Linked DNA regions of Homo sapiens. The protein of the gene in region 1 interacts with the protein of each later gene in a biochemical or structural test. Each region holds a gene or a part of one and is shown on either strand. Other genes may lie near its edges.

What was found. The genes of interacting proteins can lie anywhere in the genome.
Region 2: the proteins of SLC27A2 (region 1) and USP29 form a complex in vitro, tested with the Homo sapiens proteins (one study listed by BioGRID).

What each region holds. Positions count from the first base shown.
Region 1 is NC_000015.10:50,202,696-50,206,195, forward strand, and holds part of SLC27A2 (long-chain fatty acid transport protein 2), read left to right. Parts: intron 1-2,543; coding exon 2,544-2,668; intron 2,669-3,500. UniProt on the Homo sapiens protein: Mediates the import of long-chain fatty acids (LCFA) into the cell by facilitating their transport across cell membranes, playing an important role in hepatic fatty acid uptake.
Region 2 is NC_000019.10:57,118,766-57,122,784, reverse strand, and holds the start of USP29 (ubiquitin carboxyl-terminal hydrolase 29), read right to left. Parts: upstream 2,801-4,019; 5' UTR 2,556-2,800; intron 461-2,555; 5' UTR 311-460; intron 1-310.

The DNA.
Region 1 (3,500 bases):
CAGAAGGAACAGTAATACAAAATTTGGCTACGTTGCTGTCTGCTAGGAACAGTTTTCAATTTTGCATTAACAATAAGGCAATTTGAATCACATATTACAAGCAAGCATCTAAAATAATCTGTTTTTCATGCCTGCCTATCTAATAATGTAATGCTATAATTGTTCAGTATATCAAGAGACAAACTCCTTTAAAATATTTTAGGGCTGGGTGCAATGGCTCACACCTGTATTCCCAGCACTTTGGGAGGCCAAGGCAGGAGGATTGCTTGAGGCCAGGAGTTCAAGACCAGCCTGGGCAACATAGCAAACCTCATCTCTAAAAAAAATATATATATATATATATATAGCCAGGCATGGTGGCTCAAGTCTGTAGTCCCAGCTACCCAGGAGGCTGAAGTAGAAGAATTGCTTGAGTCCAAGAGTTCAAGATTGCAGTGAGCTGTGATTGCACCACTGCACTCCAGCCTGGGTGACAGAGTGAGACCTTGACTGTAAAAAAAAAAATTTTAGGTTATGACACTTGAGTCTTAGATTCTATGTCATGTCATTTCCATCTTTAGAAACTTGCATGTTAATCTCCATCAGCTTTAAACTTCTGCAGTTGTGTGCACTCTTCTGTAATCTCCCATTTCCACAGCTTTTCAGCTCTACTAGAAGGAGAGAAGATGGCAACTCCATCAGAATACTTGGCTTGGCTTGGCTTGCCATCTCTTCTGTTTCCTTCTCAGACTTTACTATTCAAATTGGAGTTGCCATCCTCTCTCCTTCCAGGAGGATTCATGTCACTTGTATACATTACCGCAAAGTTCAATAGCCAACTCTTCCAGGAAGCTATATGTAACTTTCTGACTGAGCTAAATAAACAACTTTTTCTCTCATGTGGCATTTCATTTTAAATAATCATATATGTATATATAAAAATATATACACATATGTATATACACACACATATATGCGTGTGTGTATATGCATGCATGTTATGGATGGATATTTGTGTCCCCCAAAAATGTATATGTTGAAATCCTAACCCCCAATATGATGGTATTAGCAGGTAGGGCCTTTGGGAAGTAATTGGGTCATGAGAGTAGTGCCTTCATGAAAGGTAGTGCCCTTATCAGAACAGGAGACAGCCAGCTTCTTTCCTGACTCTGTTCTGTTCCATGTAAGGACACAGGGAGATGATGACCATCCCCAAACCAGGAAAAATGCCCTCACCAGACACCAGACACCTTGATCGGGACTTCCCAGCCTCCAGAACTGCAAGAGATAAATGTTGTTTAAGCCACCCATCTGTACTATTTTGTTATAGCAGCTCAAACACACACACATACACACACACACACACAATCCAAAAATTTGAAATCCAAAATGCTCCAAAATCTGTAACTTTTTAAGCACCAGGACACCACAAGTGGAAAATACTACACATAAGTACTTAACACAAACTTTGTTTTATGCACAAAGTTATTTAAAATATTGCATGAATGGGCCAGGCACAGTGGCTTATGCCTGTAATCCCAGCACTTTGGGAGGTTGAGGTGGGCGAATCACTTGAGGTCAGGAGTTTGAGACTAGCCTGGTCAACGTGGCAAAACCCCATCCCTTCTTAAAAAATACAAAAATTAGCCAGGCATGATGGTGTCCACCTGTAATCCCAGCTACTTAGAGGCTGAGGCACGAGAACCCACAAGGCAGAGGTTGCAGTGAGCCAAGATTTCACCACTGAACTCCAGCCTGGGCAATAGAGTGAGACCCGGGCCAGGTACGGTGGCTCACGCCTGTAATCTCAGCACTTTGGGAGGCCAAGGGGTACAGATCACGAGGTCAGGAGATTGAGACCATCCTGGCTAACACAGTGAAACCCCTTCTCTACTAAAAATACAAAAAATTTGCCAGGTGTGGTGGCACGCGCCTGTAATCCCAGCTACTCAGGAGGCTGAGGCAGGAGAATCACTTGAACCTGGGGGGCGGGTGTTGCAGTGAGTCGAGATGGCACCACTGCACTCCAGCCTGGGTGACAGAGCGAGACTCTGTCTCAAAAAAAGAAAAAAAAATAGAGCAAGACTCTGTCTCAAATATATATATATAAAATACATATATATGTATGTGTGTGTGTATATATATAATATATATGTATGTGTGTGTATATATATGTATGTGTGTATATATATATACTTGAGACAGAGTCTCACTCTATTTATACATATATTTAGTATATATATAATATAATATATATATATATTGCATGAAATCTCTTTCCCTCTCCCCTCCCTCCCTCTTAGGACTTCATTTGAATCTCTTACTGCAAGCTAACTTTTATTAAAATGACCTTTGTATGAGTCTTCTCCTCCATAGATTGGAAGCCCCTATCGAACAAAACCATGTCTTACTAATTTTTTGCATTTGAATATAAGGTACTCAATACTTGTTTGCAAATATAATTTATTTTTAAATTTCTACCGTTCAAAGTTGACAAATTAAACATAACTGGGAGAATTTTTTCCACCATTTCTTTCTTGACACTTTCTGTGCTTTCTCTGTAGGTGCTACTCTTGCCTTGCGGACTAAATTTTCAGCCAGCCAGTTTTGGGATGACTGCAGAAAATACAACGTCACTGTCATTCAGTATATCGGTGAACTGCTTCGGTATTTATGCAACTCACCACAGGTAACACTCCCCCCGTTTTACTATCATTTTGAAATGGGTAAGATGGAAATTCAAGTCACTTTGGGTTGTGCTAGGCTTCAACTGATTTGCATATATCAGTTTTGAGTTTAGGATACAATTATCATGATAAAGTACTTGGCACTATACCTACCATATAGAGGGGACTTAGTAGGTGGGAGTTAATATTATTATTATGATGATGATTATTTCCTGCCTTTTTACTTGTTTTCACATCTTACTCCCCACCTAGCATATCCTGCATTTCCCCCTCTGCTTACTAAAAGCCAGTGTCAAAGCCCAGTTCAAATGATACCTCATACATTAAACATATTTGGGTCACTCCAACAAAAGTCATTACTCTTCTCCCCTACGTCATTTTATTTCTACCCTCTGTGGCCCTTGTCATGTTGCAGGAGTTTGTGTTCATGTCTCCCATCCTTCCTTGGCTGTAATATCTTTGATGGCTGGAACCACATCTTGTCTCCTTGTTTTCTGTTATACCGAAGGCATACAGGAAACTTTTACTTAATGCTGTTTAACAAATAAATCTCTGTGTGACTTTGAAACCAGCCAGCCAAGTCTGTCACCAAGCTGGGAACAGATGCCCCAGGGCATCTCCAATGGCCTTGGATCTGCCCTGTTTGCAGATGTTCAGCTCTCGATGGGGTTGTTCTCAAGAGCTCCTCCTGCCCAGTCCCTCAACTCTCATCAGAGATCTGGTATCAGATAGGATTTATCAATGGTGGCACTGCTGACATTTTGGGCTTTTAATTCTTTGCCGCGCGGACTTATTCTGTGCATTGTAGAGTGTTTAGCACCCTTTGGACTTTGC
Region 2 (4,019 bases), on another chromosome or scaffold:
TCATCATTTTCATTTTGGATGCATGCTCTTTTCTGAAAATGCCAATATCCAATGCCACAGAAAACAGAAAACTATCCCCTCAAAATAAAAACCCAGAATCAGGATTTTCGAATTTACAATTCAACCTCATAAAGGGTAGAAGATGAAATTCCCCTCATCACAATATCTGACAATATCTTTAGGGCATTAAGTTTAGACAGACCCTCCTTCCAACACTCACACACACATACACACACACACACACACACACACACACACACACACACACACATCCCATCACCCAAACAAGCAAACCTTGAATGAAACTTACAGTTTGGAGAGCTGTTCTGGGTGAGTGGATGATAATTCTTTTTTCAGAAATGAGATCTTGCTATGTTGCCCAGGGTGGTCCCAAACTCCTGGCCTCAATCGATCCTCCAGCCTCAGCCTTCCAAAGTGCCTGGATTAGACTCCATAGCGCCTGGAGGAGAATGATGGAAGTTGAGTCTGACAGTGATTATGATGTTCCGACCTTTTATTCCCAGGTGGCTCCACCCATATCACGGGTTTTTCCAGGAAATACGTTTCTTGATTAACTTATCTCTGTGTAAGAGTTTAAAATATTTGTCTAGAAAAGGCTAGATAGTGACTTATTTTACTTTATTTCAATTGGTAATTAAAAACTTTTATTTAGAAATCATTGCAAATATACATAAGAATTGCAAGATTAGTAGAAATAACTTATATTCCCTTCACCCAAATTTACCAATTGTGTATATTTTGCCACATCTGTCTGCTTTCTCTCTCCCTCTTTTGATGTTCTATGTATCTATCTATCTATCTATCTATCTATTTTTTAATAGAGACAAGGTCTTGCTATGTTGCCCAGGTCTCGAACTCCTGACCTCCAGTAATCCACCCGCCTCAGCCTCCCAAAGTGCTGGGATTACAGGCTTGAGCCACCATGCCCAGACATGTTCAAGTCCCTTATATAACAGGATATACTTTTACTCCACTTAATGTTTACCTGTTTTCTTTGTAGTAACCGTGCTTTTTGTTTTATATATATATAATTATATATATATAACATATATGTATATATATAACATATGTAAGTACATATAACATATGTAAGTATATATAACATATGTAAGTATATATAACATATAAGCATATATAACATACATATAAGCATATATAACATATATAAGTATATATAACATACATATAAGTATATATATAACATATATAAGTATACATAGCATATATAAGTATATATAGCATATATAAGTATATATAACATATATAAGTATATATAACATATAAGTATGTATAACATGTATAAGTATATATAACATATATAAGTATATAACATAAGTATATATAACATATAAGTATGTATAACATATATAAGTATATATAACATATATAAGTATATAACATAAGTAGATATAACATATATAAGTATATATAATATATAAGTACATAACATATATAAGTATATAACATATATAAGTATATATAACATATATAAGTATATATATAACATATATATCCTACATTTTCAACACGTGTAACAAATGTGGATAGTTTCAAAAAGATCATTTTACGTTCTAGTAGTTACCCTGTTTGACCAAAGTGTAGTACTTTTATTTTTCTATTGCAGTGCATTTTCTTTTTTTTTTTTGGCGGGAGGTGAGGGAGCGGAGCGGGGATGGAGTCTCACTCTGTCACCGAGGCTGGAGTTTAATGGCGTGATCTCGGCTCACTGCAGCCTCTGCTTCCTGGGTTCAAGTGATTCTCCTGCCTAAGCCTCCTGAGTAGCTGGGATTACAGGAGCCCGCCACCACGCCTGGCTAATTTTTTGTATTTTTAGTAGAGACGGGGTTTCGCTATGTTGCCCAGGCAGTCTCGAACTCCTGATCCGCCCGCCTTGGCCTCCCAAAGTTCTGGAATTACAGGAGTGAGCCACCGTGCCCGGCCTTTTTTCTGTTTTTTTTTTTTTTTTTTTTTTTTTGAGACGGAGTCTCTCGCTCTGTCGCCCAGGCTGGAGTGCAGTGGTGTGATCTCGGCTCACTGCAACCTCCACCTCTGGGGTTCAAGTGATTCTCCTGCCTCAGCCTCCCCAGTAGCTGGGATTACAGGCACCCACCATCATGGCCAGCTAATTTTTGTATTTTTAGTAGAGACAGGGTTTCACCTTGTTGGTCAGGCTGGTCTCAAACTCCTGACCTCAGGTGATCTACCCGCCTCGGCCTCCCAAAGTGCTGGCATGACAGGCGTGAGCCACCGACCCAGCCCTTTTTTCTTTTATATAGTTTTTGAGACAGGGTCTTGCTCTGTTGCCCAGGCTGGAGTGCAGTGGTGCGATCATACCTCACTACACCCTCGATCCCCAAGGCTCAAGTCATCCTCCAACCTCTGCCTCCTGACTATCTGACACTACAGGCGTGGGTAATTTTTAAATTTTTTTGAGACATAGTCTCACTTTGTTGTCCAGGCTGGAGTGCAGTGGCATGATCTCAGCTAGCTAATTTTAAAATTTTTTGTAGAGATGGGTGGGGGGAGGGTCTCACTATGTTGCCCAGGCTGGTCTCCAACTCCTGGGCACAAGCGATCCTCCCGCCTCGGCCTCCCAAAGTGCTGGGATTACAGGCATGAGCCTGGCCAGCATTTTCTGTTTGAATGTTTTTACGTAACCGGAGTCGTCATGATGGAGGTACAGTTCCTTGGACTTCCGGCTCCCATGGCTCTGGAAATCTCAGCTCGGACCCGCCCCTTCCGGCGCCGACTCCCCTGATTCTCCTGGGAACAGAAGAGTTCTGGGCACAGCACGCTGCGTCTGCGCAGTGCCGGGCGCAGGCCTCCCGACCTACGGGTCTAGGTACGGGCTCTAGCGTGGCCGGGGCACATAGAGTTCCTGGCCTAGAGCTGGTGGGGCGTAACGGCAGGAGTTAGGGTTCAGAGAAAACCAGCCCAGGGGCGGGTTCATCCTGTTACCCATTCAGCCTCAAGCGAGGTGGGGTGTGGTAGGTGGGCTGGTGCTAGAAACCACGCCGGGAATTGTTAATAACAGTCATCCCGGCCGGGCGCGGTGGCTCACGCCTGTCATCCCAGCACTTTGGGAGGCCGAGGAGGGCGGATCACCTGAGGTCAGGAGTTTGATATTAGCCTGACCAACGTGGCGAAACCCCGTCTCTACTAAAAATACAAAAATCAGCCGGGCATGGTGGTGGGCGCCTGTAATCCCAGCTACTCGGGAGGCTGAGGCAGGAGAATCGCTTGAACCCGGGAGGCGGAGGTTGCAGTGAGCGGAGATGGCGCCACTACAATCCAGCCTGGGCGACAGAGCGAGACTCCGTCTCAAAACAACAACAAAACCCCCAAAAAAGCGGTCATCCTCCAGGTGGAAGAGACAGAAGAGAGGGTGCGGAAGAGACTTAAAAGTCTTAGGCCTTCAAGCGTGTTTGCCTCAGCCACCCGTGAATCCTACAGGAAAACTAAAACAACTCGGCCACAAGCCCCCAAGTCTTGGGGAAGCGGACGGTTTCCCAGCCGAGCTTTAGGAGGAGGCGCCGCGGGACCTCACGGGTGACGTCGTCCCCGGGGGTAGTTTGCGCAGAGGGTCGCTTTGGGCGCGCTTAGAGTCGCGTGGTGCCTGGGCCAGCGAAGCCCAGGTGCAGTCATTTGTGGCCCTGTCCCGGCGCGCGAGGGGCCAAGGCTGGTCGGGGGCCGGGTCCGCGCGGTAGCAACTGCGTCCTGCCAGCTTCCATCTCTCCCTCTGAGGGCCTGAGCGGCTGCCAGAGTCAGGTCTGCAGGCCGGGCGCTCACGCGTCTGTGCCCAGTGAGGCCCCAAGATGCTGGTGAGGCCTCGACCCTGACTGGTGTCCAGGCTCTTGACACTGTCGTGAGAAGGAATTCATGGATGAGCAGAACAAAGTGTGGAGATTCATTGCGACGGGAATAAGTACGTACTGAAGAAAGAAAAGTGCAGGCATACCACAGAGCATCACGCCCAGCGGGGTTTGGAGCTACCTTTA